7 separate regions of the Homo sapiens genome follow, and regions 1, 2, 3, 4, 5 and 6 are each reported to be linked to region 7. The links are microRNA targets in miRTarBase. Many come from high-throughput screens and were not tested one by one. Region 7 holds a microRNA gene; each other region holds the end of a gene's coding sequence. Distances are between the middles of the regions.

Region 1 (4,363 bases), 22 Mb from region 7:
GGGGGAGTTAGTTAGGGCTCTGTCTCTGAGGCTCTGGGTAAAACCCAGGCTCTGACTTGCAGGGGAGTTCTTCGGCCTGAAGCCATATTCCTCAAACTCCCCGAAAACTCCATCCTTCCCCTGCCTCCCCACACGCCCACCTCCCACAGCCCAGGCCACCAATCAAGACTGCGAGACGGCATAGTGTACAAGAGTTTATTTAATGATATCTGAATTTAGTTCTATCATGTGGGGCCCACATTACAAGTTCCATCTGGGTCCATTACAACTCTAACCAACCCCCCACCCCCCCCCAAAAAAAAGGAAAGAAAGAAAATCCACAACTTTTTCCATGTCATTAAATATATTCATATATAATAACCATAATATATTAGTATGCATTGGAAAGGGACATTGACCCAAACAATACGTCATGGTCACAACTAAACATTTACAATTCTGAGTGAACAGAAATCCAAAACACAGGAGGGGGCAGAGGGAGGAGGGGAAGTGCATTTGGGAGGAGGGAATGGGAAGAAACGTCCAATGACAGGAGTGGGACTGGTTTGGCTTTTGGCAAGGGGCGAGACCCCACAAGTACACATTTTGATCCCCCCCGGTGTGCCATGGCCCACAGGAATGTCTTGTCCACGGACCATGGCCAGTGGCCCCATCAATGGGTCTAGTCTGTCCACTCTGGGCTTCAAGGGGACTTCCTTTAAGTGTTGACAGCCTAAGCGTCTTTCACTTTCCTGAAGGCAGGAACCATTCCCCAGTCCCTTAGGGTCTCTTCTTGAGTTCAGTCTCATTCCAACCTGGGACAACTCCAAGAAAGTAAGTCCGTACCCCTCTCCAGCATGCCGCGACTGAGGCAGAGTTCCAGGGCCTTGGAGCAGCTCCCAGCCTCCCTGGGCTGTGACCCTCCCTCCCTGGGTTGTGACCCCAGGTGTCCCTCCCTCCCACATAGAGGCCCCTGGGGATGCTGCCTCCTGCCCTGCTTTCCAAGGACAGAAGCAGTGGGCAGAGACCACAGCCAGCAGGTGAATCCCGGGGACAGCCCTATGTCCTCCCCCGCAAATCTTCGGCATTACTGCGTGTCCGTAAAGCAGGCACTCAGCTGTCAGGGGCACCAGACCACCCAGCTGGTAAGAAAAAGGACAACTGGGGAAGCTGTTTCAAAAACAAAGACTAATCTGGTATGTTTTTCTTCAAACAAACACCTACATAGCACAATTCTGGTTAATACACTCTTCAAAATCAAAATCTAGTTCCGTTTTACATCCCTTCCTAACTGTACAAACCGGGACACCTCAATTCCCATTTCCCTCTGCTCCTTGGAGTGGGGCACCGGAGTGGAGGAGGGGTGCTTTCCCAAGGATGGTGCTCACCGCAGAGGCCGGGGCTGCAGTCGGGAGTGGTGGGCTGGGTCCTGGCTGGGTGTGTGGATAGGAAAGGCAGCTCGTGACGACCGTGCAATCCCAACAGTGACCTGGCTGCTAGCATGGTGGATCTGGTCACCCTGACGCATTCCCCAAGGGCCAGACCACCGGGCGGACAGCCTGTGCCCTGCGGGGTGCTGAGCCGAAGGGAGGGGCAGGACACTGGCTGAATTTTCCGCAAGATGCCTTGTTGCTTGGCGTGTCGCCAGCTCCGTTGCTGAGGTGGCCTCAGAGACCACCACAAATGCAAGCCCCTCACAGGACACCCGTGAGACCCAGACCCAGGGTGGGATATCGTGGGGCTGCCACAGCCCTTCTGGGCAGGGTGAAGAAACCACACTGGCATAGACAGAAATAGGACAACCGCCCCAGCAGCGTAGTGCCTTGTGATGCTGATGGCGCCCAGCACACCACACTGGGCATCCGAGGGGCGCTGACAGCTTGGAGAGGGGCCCTGTCTTCTAGCCTTGGGCTGGATTCAGGGAAGCCAAATGCCCCTTCCCAGGGCAGGTCTGTCTGCTCCCTGCCCCTGAGGCACCTCTGCCAGTCTCTCCTGGAGTCTCTCCAACCACCCTGAGGCAGCCAAAACACCTTTCTAAAAACACCTTTCTACCACCTCTTCGGAGCATCCAAGGCCTGCCTTCCTGGAACCTGGAGCTGCCATCTGGCAAGTCCGTCCCTGCATCCCGCACCACTTTGCTGCCTCCTCTGAAGATGTGATTGTCCCCATGCCCTACCCCACCCCGGGCTCCTGTTCTCCAGCCCAGATGCCAGTGTCCTCAAGAGGCAGTAACCAGGGCCAGGGGCTCGGTGGCCACTCCCCCAAGAGCACCCTCCCAGCCTGCACAGGGATTGGGCGGGTAGGCTGCAGAGCTGGAGTGCAGTGAGGGCCAGCGTGGCCCCTGGTCAGAAAGTCGGGCTCTGGAGTTTGAGCCCCAGTCCTGCCACCAATTTGCAGCATGACCTTGGGCACGTGTACTCCAGTCTCCTTGCTGGTGATAATGAGTCCCTGTCCCACAGGGTTGTCATGAGTACACACTGGGAGCATGTGGGTAAAGTGCCTGGCACACAGCAGGTGCTCAATAAATGGCAGCCGTGATGCGGGTAAATGTGGGGAAGGCGGAGGGAAGCCAGACCACCGGGGGCCGAGCTTCATACTTGGTATGACCCTTTTGAGCAGCCAAACTCTGGCCGGGAAAGTGAAACCAATTTCCTGACTGTGAGGGGAGCCAGGCCTCTTAATTCAGTGCGCCGGGTGTGAGGATGTGGGCCAGAGGCCCGGGCAGTGCAGAGAGCCCAGGAAGGCAGGGAGCCAGGAGGCCCCAGGGCACAGGAATGGACCCTGTGTGAGGAGGTCAGAACAAAAGGGGCTGCCTGCTTGAGGACCGTGTCTCTAGGAGATTTTGGAAGGAGGGCTGGGGCACAGTGGAGGGCACGGGCAGACTCCACAAAGACCGTCTGGAAAGGCACGGTCAAGGTGTGGCCCAGGCCAGACCCAAGACAGCTGTAGGGGGCAGGCCGGCAGCCTCTGTGCCTTCCCTTGGAGAAGCCAGCATGGCCTCCTTGGCCCCCAGGAACCTGGTCATTCCTGTGCCCCTGCCCACCCATGGCTCAGGCACTCTGGTACTTCACTGAGCCAGCAAACCCCATCCCAGCTCAAACAAGCCCCCGGCCCCAAGCCAGGCCCAAGTGCCTTCGCAGCCTGCAGACTCCAAGCCCGTTCAGGCCCTTTCCAGCTGTTGACATTGCTGAGGGGCCTTGCGGGAGCTGATGTCATTTACATAAATAGTGTCACTGCCGTAAACCCAGCCAGTGCCCCTCCCCCTCCCCCTGGAAAACGTCATAAAAAGGGCTGGTTCCAAGTTTCCAAAAGGAAACTCTCTGGGAGGTTTTGCGTTTGCGATGCCTCCTCCAACAGGCAGCTCCAGCATGAGGCGGTGACCACCCGGCTTGGGCTTCTCAGGGGTGTCCCTGGGCCCACTGCCTTCCGGATGGGCCAGCCCCACGCTGGGCAGGGGCAGGGGCAGGGGCAGAGACAGGCAGCAGCAGGGGCTTCCTCTCCTCTCTCCACAGGTGAACCACTCACCGACCCCAAGCCCCCACCCAGTAGGACCCACTCAGCAGGTAGCAGTGGAGACAGAGGCCGCCTGGGGCATGCTGGCTGGACAGGAGCTGTCCACTCCCCAAATGCTGCCAGGCCCCTTCAGATGGAGGAGTCCAGGCTGTGACAGCCAGGTGGCCCGCGGGGAACTGCTAGAAGGGGCCGGGGAGAAAGGGGGGGATCCCGTCGGCTGCGTGTCGGGTGGTGGTTTGGTGGGTGCTCCGCGCCCCGCCCACACTACGGGCTTGAGAATTCACAGTTCTCCTCCCGTCCACGTCTCCGCGCCATCCACGCCCCGCGCCTGGGGCCCCAGTTGTGCGATTCTGCGCCCGCCCCCGGGCCCCAGGGCAGGCTGCCCCCAGCCCCTCCACGGCGGCCGCGCCCAGGCCCAGGGAAGCGCGTCTCTGCTCTGGAAGGAGCCCCGTGAGGTAGCTACGTCTCGTCATTTCTCCAGGGCCCGGCCGGCGGCGCACCCCGCCCCGCGTGCACGCGGCTCCCGCCCAGAGCGCGCAGGGTGGGGGTAGGGGGAGGGGCCGCCGAGGGTCCCGCCCCCCGCGCCGTGCGGCCCCGCCCCCTCCCTCCCCCCACCTGGGAAAGCCCTCGCGGGCCAAGTCCGCGGCGGCCGGGCCAAGGCGCCCGCTCTCGCTCGGCCCCGCCCTGGCGCCCGCCCGCCCGCCCGCCCGCTGCCTCGGCGCTAGGCCTTCTTGCACTTGCCCTTCTTCTCACGCTGCTGGAACTTGCGCAGCCGCCGCGCCCACGTGTCCCGCCACTGGATCACCAGGCTGCTTTTATCGGCCACGATGCCGCTCTGGTCCGGAGAGTCCTCCGCGTTGCCCAGCAGCAG
Region 2 (4,377 bases), not on the chromosome of region 7:
GCCTCCGAAGACCTGTACAGAGTGAGCCACCTCCCGGGGCTGTGGAGGCGCGTTCCGTGTGTGGCCATCTGGGTCCCCTCTCCCTGGGGCCCCTCGTTTTTTGGCTACAGCATTGAGTGAAGTGCGCCTTATAAAAGCAGGCTGGGAGAGAGGCTGAAGGCGAGGCTGGGGAGAGGGGCTTGGGCTGGACCGATTCACCCAGAAGGTGGCCGTGCAGGAGGCCGAGGGGGTGTGGCCTGGCAGCTCTCTCTGGGCTCACCTGCCTGGAATCTCTGCCCTGGCACCCCAGGAGGAGGGAGCTCTGCACACCCATCCCTGTGGCTCAGACGGAGCCTCCTGGCCACTCCGTGACCACATCCTTGCAGGGTGGGGCCGAAGCAATCTGAAATGAGCCACGTTGGGGGTGGGTGGGGAGACTCAGCCACTGCTGTCATGAGGCATCCGCAAGGCATGACTTTCAGCACGGCAGGAGAGAGCGGGAGCACATTCCATCTAGCCTGGCTTAGAGACATTTTGTTTGTCCTCTTTTTAAAACCGAGATTAAAATCCAACCTCCATCTTCCTAGGCTGTGATTTTCTTTTCCTTCCCTGAAGATAAGGAGTTAGGAACTGTTGCTTCTCAAATGCCGCATTGCTCTGGGAGGCCAAAATCTACCTGGAAACATCCAGCTCTGTTCCTTTGCACAGGTGGTTCTCATGGGACAGAGTCCCTCCGAGGCATGGGCGCTGTCCTAAGCACAGTCCAGCAGCAGCCAGGAGGCCGGCGTAGCCTCGGACAGGCCGCTCCGTACAGATCAAGGTTTACTAAGAGTGGAGGGGAGACGGAAAACATGAGCTTGAAACAGAAGTGTCATGATGTTGTATCGAAAACCCGAGAGCAACAAACATATCTCGAATCTGCTCATCCTCAACCTAAGACGTCTCAACACTCTCCCTGGCATGTAAAGCCACATCCTCATGGCTGCAGAGAGCAGTCATCAGAGTGCACAGAAAGCAGCGCTGGCCATGGTCTCCATTTATCGCTTCTCTTCCAAGAAATTCCAGTGCTCACATCCTGGCTTCCCGCCCACTTCGCCCTCTCCGGGGCCGAGGGGAAGGAGGTGGCACTGTCCACTGTGGTGAGTCTCATCCGGGGAACTGTGGGTTGCGATTCTCATGCAGAAGTGGCTTTGGGCAGAGCATCTAGGATTTTTGGTTTAGAATATTTCCCCCTCCACTCAGAAAAAGGAGGAGAAAAGGAAGAAGGAATAGGGGAGAGAGGAAGGGAGGGAGGGAAAGAAGGGAGGGAAGGAAGGAGGAAAGAGAGGAAGGAAGGGAGGGAAGGAGGGAGGGAGGGAGGAAAGAAGAGAGGAAGGGAGGAAGGAAGGAAAGGAGGGGTAAAGGAAAGGAAGGAGGGGAAGGAAGGGAGGAGAGAAAAAAGGAAACTTGCCATACCCTCTAATTTTGGAAAGACTGAAAAGGGGTTTTCCAGCCTATACAAAACTCTCCTTGGTCTCCTGGGGCCATACTCAGCAACGCTGACAGCACAGAATCCAGGCAATATCCACACCCTCTGCCCATGGAGGTGCACAAAACATCTAGGTAAGCAGGGGCCACACTTTCTGCATGTGGCCAGGAGACTGGCTCCTGGGTGGCACTGGTCAGATACTGCTCAGTTGTCCCCTACCCTCAGGTCACTGGGGGAACGGCACCTGCCCGTTTGCCGTGCACTGGGGGGCACTGACAGGGTGGTCTTGAGTCTTGTGTGTGTCACGCTGCTGCTGGTGAGGGGGCACTTACAGGGACCCGGGGCACACACGCCAGTGGGCACCAGCAGTGCTCCCGTTCCATCCAGACCCGGGACCCGGGCTGAGGGGTGGACCATGGCAGCCCAGTCGTCTGTTGCAAAGATGACGTGAGGGGCTGGAGGCATGGCCATCTCTGAGCTGTTAAGTTTTCCAAAGTAGTTCATACTCTTTTCATCTAGCTGAAAAATTTAAACCAAACAATGACAATTTTAAATAAAAAAAAGAAACATTTCCAAAAAACCTGTTAAGGCTAAAAGCTGGCCTCGGACTGGGAGAGGGGGCAGCAGCAGCGCCAGTGGTGGAGAAGCGGTGGCTGCTGCGAGCAGCCAGCAGAAGCCAGGACAGAGGGAGGGGACGGCCTGGTGTGCACGAGGCGAGTCGGGAGCGTGTGTTCTCAGAGCTGTTTTGCTTTATTTGCAGACACTGTTGCTTTTCATCTTTCCCATGTACAAAGCTGAACAATTAATAAAAAGGCACCTGGAGACAGCAAAGACGCATTCATTTCATGTGACATAGTTTAAAAAAAGATAAAAAGATTTTAAAAATACTCTGGTTAACAATGCACGCTTCCTACGTAACAAGCAATTCTGGAGACGCCGTCCCGTGTCCTCGTGTCCCGCGGAGTTGACCGTGTGCTGTGTTCGGGGAAGGAGAGGGCCAGCGTGGTGGCTTCCAGCCCTAAGAGGCTTCCCTCTCCCTCGCTGTCAGGTGAGAAGGAAGGGGGAAAGACAGGCAGAAAAGCCTGAGGACCGCACCACTGCAGTGACACAGACAGTGACGGCTGAGCCACACCTTAGCATCCCTGCCTGGCCGTCAGGAACCTGAAAGCCGACTCCTTGACTAGACACTGCCAAGTGAGAACATTTCAGAAACAGATGAAGTTGGGACAAAACGCACTGAGCCCAGGGAAAAACGTTTGCTCTTCAAACCCCAGGAGCCGCCGAGGATGTCCTGCGTTGAGAAGGGTGTGAGCCGCTGGTTCTCTGGAAGAGGAGGTAGAAAGAGACGGGGGCCGGCCGGGGCAGCTCTGAGATCTCACCTGACCCTCCACTCCCTCTCCCCGCTTGACCCTTCCTAGTTGGTCTTGAAGACGGAGAAACCCAGGGCTGGGGAGGTCTGAGGTCCTCCCAGGCCCCGGAGGTGCCAAGCCATTGCACCAGTGAAATACACCTTCTCTTAAAAAGAAAAGAAAAAGAAACAAACCTGCTTCCTGCAGCGAAGTTACAAAAAGCCGTTTAAAAAAACCTTCCTAATTGAAATCTAGTGTCCACAAGTAGGTAAAATCATCACTTATCAGATTTTTTTCTTTTTAAACAAAAACTTCAGCTCAGTTATTGGAGTTGATTGTCTTAACAAAAATAGACTCCGGAAAGTTGCCTCCGTTCCGCCCTGAGGGAGGCGCGGCGCTTTGCTCACACGAAGGAGGAGAAGCCGGTGAGCGGAGTTCGCGCGCCGGGGCCAGCGGGGGTGTAGACGCCGCCCGCGCTCTGCGTGGTGATGACCGGGTGCAGCTGCGCGCCCGCCTCGGAGCCCGCCACCGCCTCGTACCTGTGCGGCGCAGGTGCGCGGCCCTGGGCCCTGCGCTTCCATGAGTTGTAGTAGGTGGGGTCGCTCATGTAGTGGTTCACGAAGGAGTGCTTGGGCAGCGCGTCCTCGTAGTCAGAGTCCGTGGCCTGCGGGGAGCGGGAGAGAAGGTGTGAGTGCAGGGCAGGGCGCAGGGCCCGGAGCGTGCTGGGCAGGAGGCCTGGCGGTGGGGGCACCTCCCCAGGGGCGTGTGTCGCGGTCTCCAGCCCTCTCCCCACCCCAACCCAATGCCAGGCCCTCCCACCCTCCACACAGGAGAGCAGGCAGCCCCCAGGTCCCCCTCCCTGATCCAGGTGTGACCGACACTGCATTTTCTCAGCTGCATCCAGCCCCTCACTCTGTACCAGGTTTCCGAGAAGAGCTGGGCCTCCACCCAGGAGAGGTCTATGCAGCCTCCCCACTCAGGAGCAATCTACATGGTCTCCTCACCCCAGGAGAGGTCTACACGGCCTCCCTCACTCAGGAGAGGTCTACACGGCCTTCCTTACCCCAGGAGAGGTCCACACCGCCTCCCCACTCAGGAGAGATCTACGCAGCCTCCCTCACTCAGGAGAGGTCTACACGGCCTTCCTTACCCCAGGAGAGGTCCACACGGCTTCCCTCACTCAGGAGAGGTCCACGCGGCCTCCCCACTCAGGAGAGGTCCACGCGGCCTCCCTCACTCAGGAGAGGTCCACGCGGCCTCCCTCACTCAGGAGAGGTCCACGCGGCCTCCCTCACTCAGGAGAGGTCCACGCGGCCTCCCTCACTCAGGAGAGGTCCACGCGGCCTTCCTTACCCCAGGAGAGGTCCACGCGGCCTTCCTTACCCCAGGAGAGGTCCACACGGCCTCCCTCACTCAGGAGAGATCTACACGGCCTCCTCACTCAGGAGAGATCTACGCGGCCTCCCTCACTCAGGAGAGGTCTACACGGCCTCCCCACTCAGGAGAGGTCTACGCGGCCTCCCCACTCAGGAGAGGTCTACGCGGCCTCCCCACTCAGGAGAGGTCTACGCGGCCTCCCCC
Region 3 (4,377 bases), not on the chromosome of region 7:
TTGCAGTGAGCCGAGATTGTGCCACTGCACTCCAGCCTGGGTAACAGAGCAAGACTCCGTCCAGAAAGAAAAGAAAGAAAAAGAAAGAAGGAAGGAAGGAAGGAAGAGGGGAAGGGAGGGGAGGCTGGAGGGAGGGAGGGAAAGAAAAGAAAGAAAAAGAAAGAAAGAAAGAAAGAAAGAAAGAAAGAAAGAAAGAAAGAAAGAAAGAAAGAAAGAAAGAAGGAAGGAAAGAAAGAAAAGAAAGAGAAAGGAAGGAAGGAAGGAGGAAAGAAAGAAAGAAAGAGAAGAAAGAAGAAAGAAAGGAAAGAAGGAAAGAAAGGAAAGAGAAAGAAAGAAAGAAAGAAAAAGGAAGGAAGGAAAAGAAAGGAAGGAAGGGAGGGAGGGAGGGAAGAAAGGAAGGAAAGAAGGGGAGAGAAAGAGAGAAAGAATGAAAGAGAAGAAAGAGAAAGAAAAAGAAAGAAAGAAGAGAAAGGGAAGAAAGGGAAGAAAGGGAAGGAAGGGAAGGAAGGACAGAAGAAAGGAAGGAAGGAAAAGACAAGACTCCAGCCTCGGTGACAGAGCGAGACTCCATCAAAAAAAAGAAAGAAAGAAAAGGAAAGAAAACGGTGGGGTAGGAAAACAGGCGTCAGTCTCAGCCTAGGGAGATGGAGCTTCTGCAAAGGGCAAAGGGGGCCTCTTCCTTCAGAGCTTGGGGTATAAATGCAGCTCCTGGGAGGCAAGACACAGATGCAGTGCCCAAGACCCAGGGGGAGTGGCTGGTGGCCTCCCCTCCCCCCGATTCAATCCTGGGAAAAGTCAGTGTCTGCATGCACAGCCTAACCAAAAGCATCCTGTCTCCCTTTCAGGTTTGGGAAGCAATTGAATTTCCAGGAAATATCCATCCATGAATTATGCCAGCAAGAATGAAGCACAGATGAAGGCAGCGCCCCTCACTTGCTCTGGCTTCAGAAGTGAACTATGGGCTGCTGGGAGCAACTAGTGACTTTGATTCCCATGGAGGGGACTGTGTTTCTTTAAGGATGCTGACCTGGAGGCCACCGAGAGGCTGGGGCTGGGGCTGACCACAACATCCTTCCTGTGGTTGCTGGAGCTGCTGGCAGGGCCAGGCAAGGCCAGAGTGCTAGGGGCAGGGTGAAGGCTTCAGCTCACTGTTGTAGTGACGTTTTGTGTAGATCTTTATAAGCTTTTGAGAATGTGAAATAGCACCATCAAAATATAATGTCAGAGGATGCTCACACCAGTGGAATGTGGGGGGAATATTTTTATTTTTAACGATTTGCCAGCTCTCTCCCTTGGCCCGTGCTCTGGTTTGGAAGCCCAGAAATGGCCATGACAGGTCCAGGCAGGATGTCCCAGCCACAGGCAAGGCAGTGGAATGCAGGGCATCCTGAAGGCCAATCCTGATCTCCCAGACCACATCTTTCACCATCAGCCTCTTGGCCAGGATGACCTGGAGGCAGTGCCTGAACAGCTGTGTCTCCAGGGAGCCATCTGCCCTGCAGGGTCTAAGGACATCATAGCACCCAGAGAACAGTGGGCAGCTCCCAGGGGCTCTGCTGAGAGCTTGAGAGAGGGCAGTGTGGGTACCTTGGGCCTCACAACCTTCACCCAGCCACTTGGGAGGATTTGGGCTGACACTCCCCACTTCCACAGGGAAAAACATAGCTGCCTGGGGGTCTTGTCTCCATGGGCCCTCTCCATGACAGATCCAAGGGAAGGTGGGCAGCCCTCAAGGAGGTTCTTGAAGAACTGCCCCCTGGGCCAGGGGGTTCCAACCCAGCTGCAGCCAGGGAGGGGCAGCGGAGGGTGAGCAGGAGTGGCACCTGGAAATGAAGCTAACTGGATAAAAGTGCTGGTCCACTGCTCCTGGTGTCTCTGTCCTATAAATACAGGACCTGATGACCCTGGAGGGGAGCAGAGTGGTAATATAGTATAATTGGCTTGATTTTCTTTTTCGTTTTTTAGGACTGGGTAACAGGATCATGCAGGAGAAGATTAAACCATTACATTTCTAAGCTAGGCAGGCCCATCGAGCTCCTCTAATCCACACCCCTATTTTATATAATTAGAAGGCCAGAGTGAAGGGGAGATTCAGCTTGCTGTTCTATGCCACTGACAAATGTCCCCTCTTCAGGGGGCTTCCCCTGACCACTCCATCTCGAGTCACCCCCTAGTTATCCCCTATCCCATTACCATTTTTTCTGCATCACTATCTGACATGTTATCCTTCCGAACTTGCCTATTTTTGAAATACCTGCAACCCCCCATAATACTAAGAGCTCCAATGCAACAGGGACCTGTTTGTCTTGCTCATTGCTGTGTCCCAAGCACAGAGTCGCTGTTCAGTAAACGGTCCTTCAGTTCATGAGTAGACGAGCCAGAACCCAGATGTGTTTCTCAGGCTGGTGTCACTCTGACTTCCCCCAGGCTCTGACTGAATCCCATCGGGACAGGGGCCAGCATCTCTGGTCCACTCCTGGCCCTCACAGTTCAATGGAACATAGTAAGCCCTCTGTAAAGTCTGTAGAACCAGAGGAAGACCAAATTCTGATTCTAGAAGCCTCCCCAAGAGTCCATGGAACACACATGTAACTGCACACACACACACACATACACACACACACTCTCAAGAGCCCTGAAGATGGCATGGCATTTGCCCCAGTCCCCTATGTAGCAGCAGCAGTATTCTTGGCATGCCTTAGTGCCCTCAGCCCTCTAGAGCTGGGTAGAGTCTACTAACTTTTATTTTCTTTTATTTTTACTTTCTTTTATTTATTTTTTGAGATGGGGGGGGTCTCTGTCAGCCAGGCTGGGGTGCAGTGGTGCGACCATACCTCACTAGTCAGCCTCCAACTCCTGGGCTCAAGCCATACTCAGCCTCCAACTCCTGGGCTCAAGCGATCCTCTCACCTCAGCCTCCAAAGTAGCTGGAACTACAGGCATGCACCACCACACCTAGCTCGTTTTAAATTTTTTGTAGAGACAGGGTCTCACTGTGTGGCTCAGGATGGTCTCAAATTCCTGGCCTTAAGCGATGCTCCCGCCTTGGCCTCCCAAAGTGCTGGGATTGCAGGCATGAGCCACATACCCTGCCAGAGTCTTTCAACATTAGATCTCCCACTGAGACATCATCTCCTGGATCCAAAGGCCTTACTGACAGAGATGTGTGGCATGGCCCCATGCGGGGTGTGAACCAGCCTCCTGGGGCAATCACTAAGACAGGAAAGGAAATGAAGACAGAAAAACACACAACATGGGATCTGGGGCCACTGGTGTCCAGAGCATATGCAAAGTGTGTGCAGCAACTGGCCAAGGGGCCTTTTGCTCCGAACATCCCCTAATGGAAGCCCAGCCTTTGATATGGACACATGCTTGACAGCAGTGCACCTTCCCAGAGTTCACTGGCCTCTGCAAATGGGAGAAATTGATGCAATGTTTTGAAAAGACTTTCCAGCAATCCACCTGGGATCAGTGGAGCCACGGATGACAAGAAGTATCTGAGTTCACTCTAGGCCAAAATGTGGGATTTTCAAAAACATTTTCTGGAAAGCAGCCTAGCCAGTGACTCCAGCCCAGTCCCTGCTAGAATTCAACTGGCTCTACCAATCCCTTGACAAGAAGTAGGGTGGACGGAGGTTGGAGGAGGGAAGTTAAAATGTAGCTTGCCCAGATCTTGCTAAAAAGGAGTTTTAGAAAGCAGATAGAGAAATTGTGGTATACTGAATACATCATTTTAATTCTTCACCACCAGTATAGAATTACACATCCAAAGCTTTGTCATGGCCCACTTTGACTAATGTGGTGTTGGCAAACCTGATCCAGGCAGAGGCTTGAATTGTGCTCTCATGGTTGAGCTTGCCTCTTGCTCCAGTGATCTCTCTTGGGATGAACATGCCATGGGTAGCTGCTGCCCCTTCAGCCTGGAACATCCAGAGAGCAGACCTGAGCCCAGTCTACAGCCTGGAGCAGAGCCTCCCAGGCAAGCCCAGCCCAGATCAGCTGAACTATGGCTCACCCAAAGACCTATTGGCATGAGAATATATGCTGCTTGTCATAAACCACTGAGGTTTAGAGTGGTTTGTTATATAGCATTAATTGTAGCAATAGCAGACTGGCACAGAAATTGGAACCCAGAGACAGTATATGACTGGATCTAGGATTTCTCAGTGCAGAGTTCATTGTCTCTCCATGCAGCCTGTGGAAAGGCACTGAGAGCATCCTGTATATGGAAAAGCAGGACCACCACCTACAGCCATGATGAAGCAACAAGGACCTGATTTACCCTCCTGCTTTAAATGACTAAAAATGAGACAAAATCCTCTATACAAACCAATGGTTTTCAGCCATTGGATAACAAGCAATATAGGGTATGATTGA
Region 4 (4,377 bases), 50 Mb from region 7:
GCTCGCACTCTTGTCTTCTGGTCACACCTCACTCACTATGTCCCCTCAGCTCCTATCTCTGTATGGCCTAGCTTTTCCTAGGTTATGATTATAGAGCGAGGATTATTATAATATTGGAATAAAGAGTAATTGCTATAAACTAATGATTCATGATTCATATATAATCATATCTAAGATCTATGTCTGGTATAACTATTCTTATATTTTATTATACTGGAACAGCTCGTGTCCTCAGTCTCTTGCCTTGGCACCCGGGTGGCTTGCCGCCCACATGGGGCCAGGCATGCTGGACCCCCCTCAGTGCACATGCCAGAGCCCAATTCTCTCCTGAGTCTGGGGAAATTGATGCTGCTGAGGACACCACTGTTCTCAGAGTCGTCTCTGCTCGTGGACTCTTCTCAGCGCAGATGTAGCACCTGGATAGGAATTTTTTTTCTTTTCTGTTTTAGAGATGGGGGTCTTGCTCTGTTACAGCCCAGGCTGGAGTGCAGAGGCACAATCACAGCTCACAGGCCCAGACGGTGCAGCGGCCAGGCAGAGGTACTCCTCACTTCCCAGACGGTGGGGCGGCCTTGACCTCTCAGGTTTGAGTGAACCTCCCATTTCAGCGTCCCGAGTAGCTGGGACCACAGGCATGGTGCCACCACAGCTGGCCTGAATTTTCTTTAACAGTTTGGAGTTCCCATCAAACTAAACGCTAATCAAAGGATAGCATTATACGGTATGTGAAATTATAACATTAATTTTTTTCTTCAAAAAAAATCACATCAATAAATGTGTGATAGGTTGGCTGGGAGAAAATCTGGCTAGTCTGGGAAAATTCTTTGTAGGAAAGTTGACAACTAGGGTGCTGCGAGACCTGTGTGTACAAGTAGGTGACCCATCTGGGATCACTGGTTTTGTCAGCACCCCGATTTTGTGCAAATTCAGTTTTCCCTTTATATGGAGAGAACAGCACTGCCCCATGGAGAGCGGAAGGCCCAGGGAGGTCCATCCATGGCCTTCGCCTCTTAAACATTGACCCTGACATGCCCACATCACCTCCTCCTGAAGATTCCAGAAGTAAAGGATAAGTAAGAAAAGCAGGACGGCACTTTGGGAGGCAGAGGCGGGCGGCTCACCTGAGGTCAAGAGTTTGAGACCAGCCTGACCAACATGGAGAAACCCCGTGTCTACTAAAAAATACCAAATTAGCCAGGCATGGTAGTGCATGCCTGTAATCCCAGCTACTTGGGAGGCTGAGACAGGAGAATCGCTTGAACCTGGGAGGCAGAGGTTGTGGTGAGCCAAGATTGTGCCATTGCACTCCAGCCTGGGCAACGAAAGCAAAACTCCATCTCAAAAAAAAAAAAAGTAGGAGGGGTGAGCTGGTCTCTCCTGGAACCCCAGCACTGAGGGAAGCCAAGGCAGGCTAATCTTGAGCCCAAGACTTGGAGACCAGCGTGCCACTGCACTCCTGCCAAGGTGACAGCAAGACCCTGCCTCAGAAAAAAAAAAAAAATGCCAAGTACAGTGGCTCACGCCTGTAACCCCAGCACTTTGGGAGGCCAAAGCAGGCGGATCCCTTGAGTCCATAAGTTCGACACCAGCCTGCGCAACGTGGCGAAACCCCATCTATACAAAAAGCACAAAAAATTATTTGGGTGTGTTGGTGAGCACCTGTTGTCCCAAGTACTTGGGAGGCTGAGGTGGGAGGATTGCCTGAGCCCAACAACTTGCTGCAGTGTGCTTATGCCACTGCACCCCAGCCTGGGCAACAAAGAGGCCCTAAAAACCACCAGGGGTTTCCCTTCCAGCAGCTAAAACCTGAGAATCATGGATGCAGTGGAGAGCATGAGCGCTTTCCCAGCCCTGTGGGATCCCTTTGCTTAGCCATACACGGGCCGATCTGACACCCAAAACCAAAGGCATTGAGCGAGTGGGAGTGCCACCCGCTGCCGTCCCAGCCCTTTCCCAGGGAAAGGCCACCCCCTTCCAGCTGCTGCTTGTGATCTGGGGCTGAGTTCTGGCTGCTGCAAAAACAACATCCCAACGCGAGGGCTGGGGCCGCCAGGTCCATCACAAGGTGGGAAACATGCCCATAAGAGGAAAACAGCCCTGACTTTAAATATATATTCTCCAATTTAAAACTTTTAACTAAAAAGTAAACTTTAATGTCGAAAGTGCAAACTTGGGGAAGGCAGAAAACATCACACACAAGGCTGTCACTTCACACTTGGAAGGTTGCACAGCGGCCGGGCAGAGGCGCTCCTCACTTGCCAGACGGGGTGGCGGCCAGGCAGAGGTGCTCCTCACTTTCCACACGGTGTGGGGGCCGGGCAGAGGTGCTTCTCAGTTCCCAGATGGTGCTGGGCTGTCGGACTCCATTGCTGGATGTGTGACTTGGGTTTAAGCTTCTCCCTTCTGCTCTCATCTGGAAATGCTGACAGCCTGGGCATTTCCTCCTTTGGCACTGGAGACTGAAGCCTGGCAAGGCCCTGCCCTCAGCAGGAACTCCCCCTGGGCCCCACTCTGTGACCTTGAGCCCAAGACAGGATTTTTCCTTTACCTTCTTCCAGCCACTTTGGGCCTCCCGGCTCTCTCAGAGCCCTGTTAGGTAGGTGACAACTCTGTTCCCACTGTTTTTTTTTTCTTCGTGTATTTTTAGTAGAGATGCAGTTTCACCATGTTGGCCAGGCTGGTTCGAACTCCTGACCTCAGGTGATCCACTCGCCTCAGCTGCCCAAAGTGCTGGCATTACAGGTGTGAGCCACCGCGCCCGGCCCCCGGTTCCCACCTTCTTAAGTGTATGTGTTGTCATCATGTTTCACCCCAACCAAACCTTGGGTGGGCAGCCTCTGTAGGGGACCACTCACAGCTGGCCTGTAGTCACGGTCCCCTGCAGAGCCCTGTCCCGATGCGTCGTCCCTGCCCGTGGCCTGCTCTGCCTGATGTGCACTGTACGCTCGGCTCTGCTGACTCCCGGGGGCCTCCGTCACACACTGAGCCAGCCTCATCAGCTGTCTCGGTATTTGGTGTTCAGGGACAGGGATCCAGCCCTTCCTAAGGTCCACCTGGGCTGAGACTCAGAATGGACGTTCAAAACAAAGAGATGGAGCTGTGAGTGACACCGGGCCCCACGGGCCGTCTGTCAACCAGGCCTTGGCCCTAGTCCATCGGGCACTCACCCCCTGCAAGATGTGGACCCACTAGTGCCCAACGTGTGAACAAGTAGCTGGAGGCCTCACCCCACACTGCTGGCATGGCCTGCCTCTCTCCTACCCAGGTGTAGCAGCTCCTGGTGCCAGTTGCCCCAGAGCGTGGCCAGGCCCCGGGTGTCTCTCCATCACAGCTGCGGCTCTGGCTTCTTCCGGGAAGTGAGGTGGGGTCGCTCCCCGTGCAGCTGCTGCTGCCGCTGCTTCAACGCTCTGTAGGCCTGCACGGCCCGCTCTCTCTCCTCCTCCACAATCCGCTGGCGGGCCAGGGAGGCGGTCAGAGGCTGGGACACACCACCGGGGCTCAGAAGCATCCGCAGCATCTGCGATCTCCTGCCAGGCTGAGGGAGAGAGGGGAGGGTGAGGCACAGGCTGGGAAAGGAGGGGATGCAACAGAAAGCCTCACAGCTTCAACAGCTCTCCCGCCAGCGAGAACACTGCACTCTCAGGCCACACACCAGACAGCGCACACGTTGGCTGAGGGTTTTTTTTTTTCTTGACACAGGATCTCGCTATGTTGTCCAGGCTGGTATCAACTCCTGGGCTCAAGCAATCCGCCTGCCTTGGCCTCCCAATGTGCTGGGATTACAGGTGTGACCCACCGTGTCCAGCCTGTCCAAGGCTTCTGTTCCCTGGCAGCACTGGGGGACAAACTCAAGTTGTCCCCGTGCCCCACTTACCTGGTCCTTGCTTACGCTCCTCTGGGGCCTGGCAGTCAGCTCTGGGGGCTGCAGGACAACCTCACCAAACTTCACCGTGTCTGGAGGAGCAGAATACAACTGAGGACTGCTGCCCACAGCCACTGCACCCCTGACACCCAGAGCCACCACCCGCCCACCTCCCTCCCATAGGGCTGGGACAGAACACCAACTCATCCAGTGGTCTAATGGCTGTGGACCCCAGGGGAAACCACAGGTGCCCAGTGCAGCCAGGGCTGGTGGGGAACAGAAGGCCTGCGCCCAGGCCCCACCCGGACCACTGCTGACACCATCGCTTTGGGAAGAGCTACCTCGGAGCAACTCCTGCTCCAGCCTGTCTGCCGCCTTTTCCTCCTTTTTCCGTCGGACTTTATCTAGTCGCCGCTTCTGGAACCTGGGGAAGAAAGCACATGTCACTCAGATTCCTAAATTCTCTTTCCACCCAGGGAGGAGGCAGAGGCCGCCCCACCCACAAGGGATCCCCT
Region 5 (4,377 bases), not on the chromosome of region 7:
AGTAGGAAAGCTCAGTCGTCAGGTGGGAAACCGAAGTCAGAGGGGCATTCAGGCTCCTGGAAGAGCAGGAGCAAGGGCTCTGGGGAGAGAAGTCTTGGGTTCAGAGGCAGGCTCCACCGTGCACCCACTATAGGGCCTTGGGTGTCAGTGTCCCCCCTCTTGGAGACTCGGTTTCCTCATCTGTAGAAAATGCAGCTAATCACTGGCCCTGGCGGAGATAATAGTGAAGACGCACCCTGCCTGGCGGAGGCTCAGGAGGTGCTGAATAGAGGTTTCCTCCCTTCTCCCTGGCAGTGCTGACAGCCTGAGACAGGATGGGGACCAGGACCCGCTCCCCAGCATCTCCAGCTGGGACATCTGCACCAGTTCAAGGGCCTCAACAGGACCCTGAGATTGTCATTCCCATGTCTCAGTTTTTGGGAAAGATGTTCTTTTCAAGGAGAACTGCTGGGCTTCTGGGTCAAGGGACAGCTTCACTTTTTTCAGCTGTGGAATGGCTTGATGGCTGAGTCAGCCTTGGGAGCCCTGGGTAAGAGTTCGAGCTCAGGAGGAAGCCTTAGTCTCCCTAGCCTTCTTGTGAGCACAGATGGGGAATAGATGCAGAAAGTAGGGGCTTTCCCTGGGGTGCTGGCCCACTACCTGCCTCTTTCTCGGAGAACTGTATATGTCTTTGGAAGGAGACTCATGCCTTCACTTCTCCTCTGTTAATACCAACTTTTAGAAACAGGTTTGTGGTTAATTCAGACTAAAGTGTCAATGACTAATAGGCAGCAACTTTTTGCCCTCTTACTCCACAACAAAAGCTAAAATAAAGTGAGTGAGTATCAAACGGTGTAATTTGAGGCAGCAGCAAATGTGTAGGATGAGAGGGTGATGATTTCAGGCATCCAAAATCAGACCACTGAAGCCAGGTAACTTAGAAGCTTCAGACACAAAAATGGAAGGGAATTGGGCCAGGCACAGTAGCTCACACCTGTAATCCCAGCACTTTGGGAGGCCAAGATGGGAGGATCGCTTGAGCCCAGGAGTTTGAGACCAGCCTGGGTAACATAGCAAAACCCCAGCTCCGTAAAAAATAAATTAGCAATTAGCTGGGCATGGTGGCCTGTGCCTGTATTCCTAGCTACTCAGGAGGCTGAGGTGGGAGGATCGCTTGAGCACAAGAATTCAAGGCTATAATGAGCTGTGATAGCACCACTGCACTCCAGCTTGGGTGACAGAGCAAGACTCGGTCTCAAACAAAAGAAAAGAAAACAAAACAAAACGAAAACCAGAAAGGGAACTGTAGTGGCCTGTGGCCCTGGGAACCAGCCCTGCTGGGGAACTCTCACCTCTGTTAATAGGGCCCGGGCTGCCTCCCCGACCTGTTGTCCCTGAGAGATGGAGGGGATGCTGAAGGAAGAGAGAAGAGATGAAGAGGCAGGACCCATCCCTCCCCTGATCTGATCTCCATCTTAGCAGGGCCATCAGCCCCAGAGCAAGAGGCAATGTGCCAGCCATCCTGCTGAATCAGCCTGCCTGGCACTGGCCGTGGCACTGGCCGTGGCACTGTGAGGCTCTCCTAGCTGAGCAGGGGCCGCCTGTGGCAGCAGAAATTGAGCCAAGCAGCTTCATAGTGGATGGAACTGGAAGCAGTCTTCTCCGCTTTCCTCCCCTCCTCCCCAACCCAACAAACAGGCTGGGTAGACAGCCCTGTAAGAAATGCATGTCGACATTTTTATTGATCAGAAAGTAGGTGACTGGTCACCCAGAACATTCTCAGAGCCAACACCAGGGCCCCTCGATGGCCCAGCAGCAACTCCAGAGCTTCCCACACTCAGTGTGGCCCCGACCCCCAGCCCTATCTCTGCAATGCTCACTCCCTTCCTACCCACAGCTCTTTCTCAGGGGAGTCCCAACCCCAGCTCACACCCCCGGCCCCTTCAGAGCCTCCTTCTCCTTCTTGACTCAGTGCAGGCTGGGGTATGATCCTGAGCAGAGGACGCTCAGGTTAAAGCAGGAGCTTGCAAATAGAGTTCTGTAGAACCTTCCAGAAGGGGATTTTCAGGTTCCCGCTCACCCACTTTAACCATAGCAGTTCCAGGCTAGCTTTTGTTGGTTAAAACAGTGACAGTAGTTGGCTCAGTGTGAGGTCTCAGCAGGGGCCACTGAAAACCTAGATGGACCGAAGCCCTAGGGCCAACTGCCCTACAATGGCCTCACTGGCAGTGGGGGAAGAGGGTAGGCTGGCTTCCTCCTGCCCGTGCCCTGCAGCCCAGCTGAACCAGCCTGCCTGTGCATGTCTCAGTGACCTCACTCCGGGCTATTAACCTCCCGTGGCAGCTGTCTTCCCTACTGTGGGAGGGGACATGGGCCTGCACAGCGGTTTATTCAGGGATGAAACCTAAGCTATGTGCAGGGTCCCTGGGTTGCTGAGAGAGACCGGGCAAGCCTTCCCCTCCCACTGCCTGCAGAATGAAGGGGAATAATTAAAGACTATTAAAGGAAATTAAACTCCACCTTCAGAGATAACCTAATTTCCTCCCAACACACACACCCTCTTCTAACATCTGGCCCCCTACCCCTGCTACATCTGGAAGCTCCAGCTCCCTTCAAATCCAGAGTCCAAAATCCCAGCCCAGGAACCACGGACACCTCTAGGCCCCCAAATCCGTCGTCACACACTCTGCTACCCTGACCTCATCCCCTCCTGCCCCGTCATCCTTTGTGTGTCCTCAGGCCTCACGTTGGCTTCTCAGCATTTCTGAGCTGGGAGAAGCCAGCTCTGGTAATTAAAGTCTTTCCAGAAAGGTAGCAATCACTCTTCTGAGGTCGGAGTCAGCTATTAAAATTTTGTTGTCTTTTTTTCTATTTAAATTGGCCCTTGGACACTGGGTTTTTCTGTCCTTGTTTGTCCACACACAGCTGAAGGGTGCTGGATGGGGGTGGAGGTAAGTGTCACAGCCTTGGGTCCCCTTTGGGAGAAGAAACCTAGAGCGGGGAGAGGATGTTTCTGATCCCCTTTCCTAGTTTTCCAAGAGCAGAGGCAGCCTGGTGCCTGGCACACCAGACCCCAGGTCCCCCAGGCCCCGTTCCAGGTGCAGATGCAAAGTCATTATCCTTGTTCCCCAGGGAGGCATCAGAATGAAGGGGGAGCAATTCTAAGTGGGGCCCATCTCCCTAGGCCTCCCACAGCCATTCTGGAACATGCTAACATTGTTGATCTAGAGCCTCTGGGGGCTGTGGGTGGGAAAGAGGCCAGGGAAGAATGAGGTGCATTCTTCTCGGGTTGGGTAGGCCATTCCAGAGGCGAGGGTAGGTGGTATCCATCCCTGTGTCCTGGTGCCCATGGTGGCCAGGATGTTTGCAAAGTGCCAAGACTCCCCCAAGAGAATGGAGGCCAGGTGGTTGTTCCTTGCCTTCACCCTGGCAGGGTTCCCTAGCAAGAGGGCAGAGAGGATGGCGGGTGGGGGCAGGCTCAGGGCACCATGTTCCACCATTTGAAGGGAAAGGGCTTCCTGCGCACGTTGGTGCCACAGTGGATCTCCCCCTGCAGCTCGTGGTAGGACAAGTAGTCATCAATGAAGATGCAGTGCAGGCCCAGAGGCTCCAGCAGGGACTGCACCTTCTCCTCCAGGCAGCAGCGGCCATTGATGATGGGCCCGTAGGGCTTGGGGATGCCCAGGTACTTGCCTAAGACCACCATGTTAACCTGCAAAAGAGAAAAGGCAAGAGGGAGGCTGTCTGGCTATAAGTGCTGTGCTTCTGGCACCCCTTCCTTGCCAGAATGAGACAGGCCCTGGGGAATGGGTTGGCCATAGCCACAGCCTAGAAAGGGCTCTAGGACTGGAGTTTGCTCAAGAGTTAGGGCCTATGAAAGCAGAGGAGAAAAAGATTCAGGGTTGGAAATGAGGTTGAATAACAGCCAGGACTACCAGGAATTTTGTACATTAAAAAACAAAAACAAAAAACAAAAAAAAACTTCTCCCACTCTTTCTTTCATCTATGAGAAAATTGTCATATTATAGCAACTTTGTTAGAACAAGAGATTTTCGTGTCATCTGCCAGAAACTTGTACAACAAATATACACACCTACAAGGTCTGTGGTGTGGATGTCTTCCAAAGTGTGGTGTGCTTTTGCTGTGCACAGCTTGCTTAACTGTCTTTGGCAGCCCTGATCATTGTTAGCATTTATTGAGCATCTTTTATGTGCCAGATATATCATCACTAAATGCCACAGCCTCCCTCTGAAGCTGTGGCTCAGACAGGTTAAGTCACATAATCATACAGCCAGAGAATGATGAGACTGACATTTGGACTTGGATCTGGCTGGTGCCAAAATCCATGCTTTTTATCTGGCCACCTGTGGGACTGAGGAGTTGGGGGAAAGGGCTGAA
Region 6 (3,000 bases), not on the chromosome of region 7:
GGAGAAGCTGTGGGACCCCTTCAGCCTGGAGGAGGGGCCGGCTGAGGAGCCCCCCAGCAAGGGAGCGGTGAAGGAGGAGAAGGGCGGTGGTGGTGCGGAGGAGGAAGAGGAGGAGCTGTGGTCGGACAGTGAACACAACTTCCTGGACGAGAACATCGGCGGCGTGGCCGTGGCCCCAGCCCACGGCTCCATCCTCATCGAGTGTGCCCGGCGGGAGCTGCACGCCACCACGCCGCTTAAGAAGCCCAACCGCTGCCACCCCACCCGCATCTCGCTGGTCTTCTACCAGCACAAGAACCTCAACCAGCCCAACCACGGGCTGGCCCTCTGGGAAGCCAAGATGAAGCAGCTGGCGGAGAGGGCACGGGCACGGCAGGAGGAGGCTGCCCGGCTGGGCCTGGGCCAGCAGGAGGCCAAGCTCTACGGGAAGAAGCGCAAGTGGGGGGGCACTGTGGTTGCTGAGCCCCAGCAGAAAGAGAAGAAGGGGGTCGTCCCCACCCGGCAGGCACTGGCTGTGCCCACAGACTCGGCGGTCACCGTGTCCTCCTATGCCTACACGAAGGTCACTGGCCCCTACAGCCGCTGGATCTAGGTGCCAGGGAGCCAGCGTACCTCAGCGTCGGGCCTGGCCCGAGCTGTCTCTGTGGTGCTTTTGCCCTCATACCTGGGGGCGGGTTGGGGGTGCAGAAGTCTTTTTATCTCTATATACATATATAGATGCGCATATCATATATATGTATTTATGGTCCAAACCTCAGAACTGACCCGCCCCTCCCTTACCCCCACTTCCCCAGCACTTTGAAGAAGAAACTACGGCTGTCGGGTGATTTTTCCGTGATCTTAATATTTATATCTCCAAGTTGTCCCCCCCCCTTGTCTGGGGGGTTTTTATTTTTATTTTCTCTTTGTTTTTAAAACTCTATCCTTGTATATCACAATAATGGAAAGAAAGTTTATAGTATCCTTTCACAAAGGAGTAGTTTTAAATTCCATTTAAAATGTGTATTTATTGGATTTTTTAAAAGCGACAATAGTAATGGTAAAGGATGGGCAGGAAAGGCCAGTAGTGCTCCCCCGCCCAGTCTCGCTGGGTCTGGCGAGCCAAGCCCCTCGGGCGCTGGCGAGGTCCTCAGCCATCTGCCCCTCGAGAGCCAAGCGCGGACGGTAGCCACCCAGTTCATCCCTCCCGACATACACCCCTTCCCTTTGGGGAAGGGAGCCTCAGGACAGCTTCTGTCCTCTCTGATAGGATGGGAGAGTCTGCAGAAAACCATCTGGGGTCCCTTTTCCAGTCCCCGGCTTGGAGTCGAAGGGCAGATGCACCCCAGGCCAGCCCCACGAGATGCTGGCATAGCTTTCCCCAGAAACCAGGTTGGAAGTAGATGGCTTCAAGCTTGCTAGTCTCCACACTGAATCCTCTGTCCGTTATTTATGGAGTCACACGATGTCATGGTTCACTAGGCAGCACCTCACGCTGGAGCTGGAGTGCGAGGTTCTTAGGGGCCGTGCCCACCATGTTGCCAAGCCAATGCATGCTGAGCTGAAGGAATTTGTCTTAGTGGCAGTTTTTTAAAAAATGCCCCCAAAGTCTATGCTGATACTGAAAAAGGGCTACTGTATCTTTAAAAACAGGAAGTTGAACCCAAGCTGTGAAAAGCCAGTGGTGCTCTGTGCATGGTGCTGTGCGGAGCCTGGTGCTGTAGTGTTGTGCTGGGACTTTCTTGACTCTTGGGCAGGTCACATCCTACAGGAGCTCAGCAGACCAGTGTAACAACAGTTAATGCATCTATCCTGATCCCTGAATTTCCACATTGGACAATGGTGCATGCCTCACACCTGAGCCTGCTTCCTCCATGCTGTCATTGGGTTCGGGGGCCTACACTTAACAATTTTAAAGTGCAAGAGTCAAACATTTTCAACAGGTTGCTATAATTTTCCTCCCTAATTGGTGCCATTTCTCCATTTGATCATTTTCTTTTTTTCCTTTCTCCCCTCTTCATCCACTTTAATATAGCTGTTCTGAAATTCTGGTGCATTCATTCGGTTCTTTGAAATGAGAATGTGGTGCTTAATTTTTGTGACGTTGTCGAGAGAGGTTGGGCCTGATGGGAGCAACACTCATCATCACCAAGTCAAACTTTGTTGGAGTGTTGGTTTTTCTTGTGATATTAGCAGAAATGATCTCATGCTAGCCATGTGGATGTGTGTGTGGTGAATGGGGGGCTTCATCAGGACACACAGAGGGGAATGTGGCCACACGGTGGATGACCACCAAGCCCTGAGATGAACAGGTATTTACTGAGCAGTTGTATTCAGATATGGGTCTTCATGAATCATGTTTAACAATCAGATGACCGCTATAGGCAAGTTCCTGAGCTTCCGGGTGCCTTGAGTAAGAGCTGAGAACCGGCCTGCTGGGTGTTTACTGTATCTGTTTGGAAGCACTGGCGGAGGGTCGTTGTAAGATGTCCTGAGCATTTATGTGGTCTGGTTTTAACTGTAAATAGTGAAAGATTTTTTTAAGCACTTTTGCCTAGATTTAAACAGCAACTTGAAAAAAAAAGTATGTTTTAACATGTAATTGTGGGAGAAATTGTAAATAGTAGCCGAATATTTAATGTGCTTTGTCTATCCTCCACTTTTACCATATTCTGTAAAGTTGCATTTATTTTACAGGACAAAAAAATGAAATATTATTGCTTTTGAAATAAATACCCAAGAGCTTATCAGGACTTAGAATTATTCAGAACTCAGATTTATAGGAAAACCTCTGACCTTCAGTTTGACAAGCTAAAGGAAGCAGAGTCTTTAATGAGCATGCTAATTTTCTAGTTTTGAGGAAAAATTGGGTCCTTTAAATGCTATTTTGCTTATCGCATCAGTACTTTTATGCAGGTCTCATTTGACTCCGTGCTTAGGTAGATGCGGGGGTGCCTTGAAAACTTCATTTTAAATGATCTTAAGCAAGAAATACAATATTTTACGAAACATTTGGAGAAT
Region 7 (4,377 bases):
TAATCCAGCACTTTGGGAGGCCGAGGCAGGTGGATCACCTGAGGTCAGGAGTTTGAGACCCAGCCTGGCCAACATGGTGAAACCTCATCTCTACTGAAAATACAAAAATTAGCCGGGCATGGTGGTGGGTGCCTGTAAATCCCAGCTACTTGGGAGGCTGAGGTGGGAGGATCCCTTGAGTCCTGGAGGTCAAGGCTATAGTGAGCTGTGATGAAGCTACTGCACTCCAGGCTGGGTAACAGAGTGAGACTGTGTCTCAAAAAAATAAAAAATAAAAAAATAGGTCTCAGAAAAATCGGATTCAGCCGAGCGCAGTGGCTCATGCCTGTAATCCCAGCACTTTGGGAGGCCGAGGCAGGTGGATCATGAGGTCAGGTGTTCGAGACCAGCCTGGCCAACACAGTGAAACCCCGTCTCTACTAAAAATACAAAAAATTAGCTGGGCATAGTGGCAGACGCCTGTAATCCCAGCTACTTGGGAGGTTGAGGCAGGAGAATCGTTTGACCTGGGATGTGGAGGTTGCAGTGAGCTGAGATCGCGCCACTGCACTCCAGCCCAGACGACAGTGCAAGACTCCATCTCAAAACAAATAAAAATAATAATAATAATTTAAAAAAAGGTATTTCTGCTTCTCGACAATCCCCCAGGACCTCCAAAAGCCTTGGCTGGTCAAAATAGAGTCATGTGTCACTTAACAACGGGGATCCATCCTGAGAAAGGCATTGTTAGGTGATTTTGTTATTGTGCCAACCTCACAGAGTGTGCTTACATAAACCTAGATGGTGAATAGCCTGCTGCACACCTAGGCTAGGTGGGGGAGCCCATTGCTCCTAGGCTACACATCTGTACAGCACGTTCCTATCCTGAATGCTGTAGACAATTAGAACACAATGGCAAGCGTTTGTGTACCTAACCAGAAAAGGCACAGTAAAAACAGTGTTATAATCTTATGAGACCACTGTCCTACATGCGGTCCCTCGTTGACCAAAACATCGTTAGGCAGTGCATGACTGTATCTGCAGGGTGGGGCTGGATAGGGCAGGGGTAGGGAGACCTGCTGAGAATGGAGGAGATCCATGAAGTGAAATAAGGATGGAGGACTTTCAGTCAAGGAAAAGCAAGCTCCAGGGTCACAGTAGAGGGGGAAAGACCCTCAATTCACTGTTCTATTTTCAAAATGGCTAGTTCACTGGGTCTCAGACAGACAGTGGATTCTGAGGCTCCTTCTATTTTATTTTATTTATTTTTTGAGACAAGGTCTCACTGTGTTGCCCAGGCTGGAGTGCAGTGGTGCAATCTTGGCTCACTGCAACCTGCAACTCCTGGGCTCAAGCAATTCTCATGCCTCAGCCTCCCGAGTAGCTGGGACTACAGGCACACACCACCACACCCGGCTAACTTTTGTATTTTTAGCAGAGATGGGGTTCTGCCATGTTGGCCAGGCTGCCTTCTATTTTAAAATACAATGCAAGTTCCTGCGCAGATAGATGCCTCCTCTACTCCTGCCTCAACTTCTCAGGAAAGGTTGGGGGGCATCTTGTCCAGCCCAACTCTGTTGCCTCTAACATCACTGACCCGGAAGATGACCTTCCTTGGGCACTGCACGTGCAGCTAGGCTCTTCCAGGCCTTCACTGCACACAAACCAGGGAGTTCCTGCACCCTCCTGGGCTCCAACCTGCACAGGAATATCTTGATGTCCAGCCCTCCCGACCCTCAGCCACTCCAATCCTCCACCAGAAGAGAAGATGCTAAAAATGCACGCAAACAAAATTGTTTTAATAATCAGCAAATCCCCATTCACTCTTATTTTGGACGTACATTCCAATCTGACCCCAGGAAGTCCCGGTCCTCCCAGAAGGGCCAGGTGGGTGAGAGGCAGGTTGCTGGCCGCTGCCCGATGCACACTGCAAGAACAATAAGGATTTTTAGGGGCATTATGACTGAGTCAGAAAACACAGCTGCCCCTGAAAGTCCCTCATTTTTCTTGCTGTCCTTGAACACTCTCCAGGTGAGGAAGCAGTCGTCTGCCACGCCCAGATGAGCCGAGGTGAAGCTGGTGTTCCCTCACCCGACACTGACGCCTTCCCCACAGCCCATGGAAAGCTCCCTGGTGGGTGGGAAGGCTGCAGGGTCTCCAGAGAGACACAATTTTCTCCGATGCCGGGCCCAGCTGCGGCCAGCCTCGCCGCCCTCCCAAGGCATACCCAGGAATGACCTGGGTTCCACCTAAAGCCAACTCAGAACCCAGCGCCTTCTGCCTGCAGGAAACTGCAGACCAGCATCCTGGTGGAATCCCAATGTGGAGAGCAGCCCCCAAAACTCGGGAACGTGGCAAGAACTATACTATAGTCTGTAGCCCCTGTGTTCACAGGAGGGGCGTGGACCATCTCAGAGAGACAATGATGGTCTCAGGCCTGGCGTGACACATGAACACAAGACAGCCAGCCTCCAACCTTCTTGTAACCAGGCCTGAGGCCAGGCCTGATTCAGGCAAAGAGAAGAAAACACCAGGAAGTGCCCAGAAGAGCAACCCAGGCCTGAAAACCCGGGAGAAGAGCTGCCCCGACTCTCTCCAGCCCATCTTAAAGAACGGCACACAGACAGGAGATTCCAACAGGAATGGGCACGGGAACTCCGGTTCCGCTTCTCTCCAGCAGTCGCGGCCTTGGTTACTCTGCCTGTAAAATGGGCCTGGAAGGAGCTAAGCTCCCACCACCCTCTCTCCCATTTCAAAGGGAAAGCCAAAGAGGAAATGAGACTTTCAGCTCTGTCACAGAAAGCAAAGGGGCTGGAAGAGGCTGCAACCTGTGAGAAACAGCACGCCCTGGGGTGCTGCTGAATGGATCTCAGGCCCGCCCACCAATTCTCGGCCATATCCCACCCTGCCCTTAGCAAAAGAGCAACAGCTTCACATTGGCCTGAGTGGGAAGGCAGGTCCTCCCAATACCCTTCTATGAAAACGGCCTACAATGGGCAACAAAGACAAGTGTGAAGACCTCTGGAATGTCCTAGGTGGTTTCTGGGTTCAAATCAACAAGCCCACAGGCTCTGCTGGGAAGCACAGGCTGAAAGAAACCAAGGTTGGGTGAAGGAGATGGTGAGACAGTGGCCAAAAAGAAGGGAAGAGACTGGTGGCCAATTTGTTTTTTGTATGGGAGGATAAAAAACAAGAGCTTCCAGAATCAGAGACTCGTAGAGGATTCTCCTTAATGGGACAATCCCTTCTGTCCCGAGGCCCAGGTGAGCCTCCAGGGCAGTAGAGGGTCAACCCCAGCGTCAGGGCATCAGGGCCCAGACCAGGAAGGCCCCTAGGGAATGAGGTCCTGCATGTGCCTCCCACCTGTGGAATGTCACCCAGCAACAGGAAACGTGTCTCCTGAGGCCAGGCCACTTTGCCCAAGGCCCCGGCACAGCTGGAATCTGTCCAGCCTGGCACTGCACCTGCTCTTTGGGGGCCCCACTGTCCATGCAGGAACCTGGCCTGTCAGGACACAGGTTGCCACCGCTGTGGTGAAAACACATCCCCACAAAAGACAGCCAGCTGCTGGCACCACTACCTGCTAACTTGCTGTATGACCTGACCCTGTGTAAATTACTCGGCTTCCCAGCCTCAGCTCTCTTATCTGTAATAGGAATAATAAGCCCACCTGGAAGGGCAATGTAAGGATCGAAAGAAAGCAAAGTGTGTAGCAGGCTCCTAACAAAAGTGGATCCCCTCAGACCCCAAGGGCAGGGGCTGGGCCATAGCGAATTCTTCCCCTCTGGGAAGGGGGCTGGGTCAGGGTGCCAGCCCGTGCCTCGCTGCACCCTGGGCACTGACACTGCATCTTCTCCCCAACACTCCACGCTCCTTCCAGTTCAGACTGTGAGGAAGTGTGCCTGCTATCCCGATTGCCAGCTCCAGCCTCAGCCCTCTCAAACTGACATTCTGGCACCTGTCATCCACCCGGAGCTTTCTGTCCTAACCAAGATCACAGACATATTCTCCACCAACAAAGCAGAACTGAAGCAGTCCCCCCACACTAGGTTCTGCATCATCTGAACCACTGAACAGCACACCTGCATCACTGTGCTGAGCTGCTCCCGCTGCCTGGCACACCTTACCCCACGTGGTGCCGTGCAATAAGCAGGCAAGACCTAGCTCACCACTCACTAGCCTCGGGCCAGCAACTTAACCCCGAGTGCTTTTGTCTGTTCCTGTGTGAGTCTGGGGTTACTACCTATTTCAGGGGTTGTCTGGAGGACTGAATGGGTTCATTCATGGAAAAGGCTTAGAACTGTGCCTGGCACAAAGCGTTCAATCAAGATTAGCTATTATTACCATTCCTGCTTTGTTCTTCAAGACTCAGCTCACCTCTTCTGGGTGACCTTCCTT

Evidence for each region. Region 7 holds the annotated microRNA hsa-miR-4725-3p (UGGGGAAGGCGUCAGUGUCGGG, at 2,070-2,091, opposite strand). A microRNA usually pairs through its seed, bases 2 to 8, with sites in the 3' UTR of a target mRNA and lowers its output. Matches are read on the target gene's strand: a 7mer-m8 pairs with bases 2 to 8, a 7mer-A1 pairs with bases 2 to 7 and ends in A, and an 8mer does both.
Region 1: the mRNA of NTN1 is a reported target of hsa-miR-4725-3p. Seed matches in the 3' UTR shown: 8mer at 2,530-2,537, 8mer at 1,142-1,149 and 7mer-m8 at 484-490.
Region 2: the mRNA of SDK1 is a reported target of hsa-miR-4725-3p. Seed matches in the 3' UTR shown: 7mer-m8 at 2,431-2,437, 7mer-m8 at 1,394-1,400 and 7mer-m8 at 1,091-1,097.
Region 3: miRTarBase lists KIF6 as a target of hsa-miR-4725-3p. Seed matches in the 3' UTR shown: 7mer-m8 at 2,139-2,145 and 7mer-m8 at 2,418-2,424.
Region 4: miRTarBase lists CCDC137 as a target of hsa-miR-4725-3p. Seed matches in the 3' UTR shown: 8mer at 2,172-2,179.
Region 5: the mRNA of PADI1 is a reported target of hsa-miR-4725-3p. Seed matches in the 3' UTR shown: 7mer-m8 at 2,211-2,217.
Region 6: the mRNA of TET3 is a reported target of hsa-miR-4725-3p. Seed matches in the 3' UTR shown: 8mer at 786-793 and 7mer-A1 at 1,357-1,363.

Annotation. Positions count from the first base shown.
Region 1 is chr17:9,239,819-9,244,181 of GRCh38, reverse strand. NTN1 (netrin 1) reads right to left here. Exons shown (of 7, transcript NM_004822.3): 7 at 182-4,363. The coding sequence ends at 4,214. Among named protein-coding and RNA genes, the nearest start is that of NTN1, 220 kb to the right of the region's middle. RefSeq lists a silencer at 3,750-4,199.
Region 2 is chr7:4,264,207-4,268,583 of GRCh38, reverse strand. SDK1 (sidekick cell adhesion molecule 1) reads right to left here. Exons shown (of 45, transcript NM_152744.4): 45 at 1-3,460. The coding sequence ends at 3,200. Among named protein-coding and RNA genes, the nearest start is that of FOXK1, 420 kb to the left of the region's middle. RefSeq lists an enhancer at 3,705-4,377.
Region 3 is chr6:39,333,017-39,337,393 of GRCh38, reverse strand. It overlaps KIF6 (kinesin family member 6), which reads left to right. Exons shown (of 23, transcript NM_145027.6): 23 at 846-4,377. The coding sequence ends at 862. All of the region lies in intron 1 of LOC105375047 (a long non-coding RNA gene), which reads right to left. Among named protein-coding and RNA genes, the nearest start is that of KCNK16, 13 kb to the right of the region's middle. RefSeq lists an enhancer at 1,152-1,231.
Region 4 is chr17:81,671,653-81,676,029 of GRCh38, reverse strand. It overlaps CCDC137 (coiled-coil domain containing 137), which reads right to left. Exons shown (of 6, transcript NM_199287.3): 4 at 4,204-4,286; 5 at 3,875-3,954; 6 at 2,131-3,535. The coding sequence ends at 3,326. Among named protein-coding and RNA genes, the nearest start is that of CCDC137, 7.1 kb to the right of the region's middle.
Region 5 is chr1:17,243,324-17,247,700 of GRCh38, reverse strand. It overlaps PADI1 (peptidyl arginine deiminase 1), which reads right to left. Exons shown (of 16, transcript NM_013358.3): 16 at 1,694-3,691. The coding sequence ends at 3,458. Among named protein-coding and RNA genes, the nearest start is that of PADI3, 3.6 kb to the left of the region's middle.
Region 6 is chr2:74,101,585-74,104,584 of GRCh38, forward strand. TET3 (tet methylcytosine dioxygenase 3) reads left to right here. Exons shown (of 12, transcript NM_001287491.2): 12 at 1-3,000. The coding sequence ends at 592. Among named protein-coding and RNA genes, the nearest start is that of BOLA3, 45 kb to the right of the region's middle.
Region 7 is chr17:31,573,040-31,577,416 of GRCh38, reverse strand. It overlaps MIR4725 (microRNA 4725), which reads right to left and starts at 2,148; the gene lies at 2,059-2,148. MIR365BHG (MIR365B and MIR4725 host gene) reads right to left here. Exons shown (of 3, transcript NR_186556.1): 3 at 1,758-1,906. MIR365B (microRNA 365b) reads right to left here and starts at 2,006; the gene lies at 1,896-2,006. RefSeq lists an enhancer at 3,432-4,051.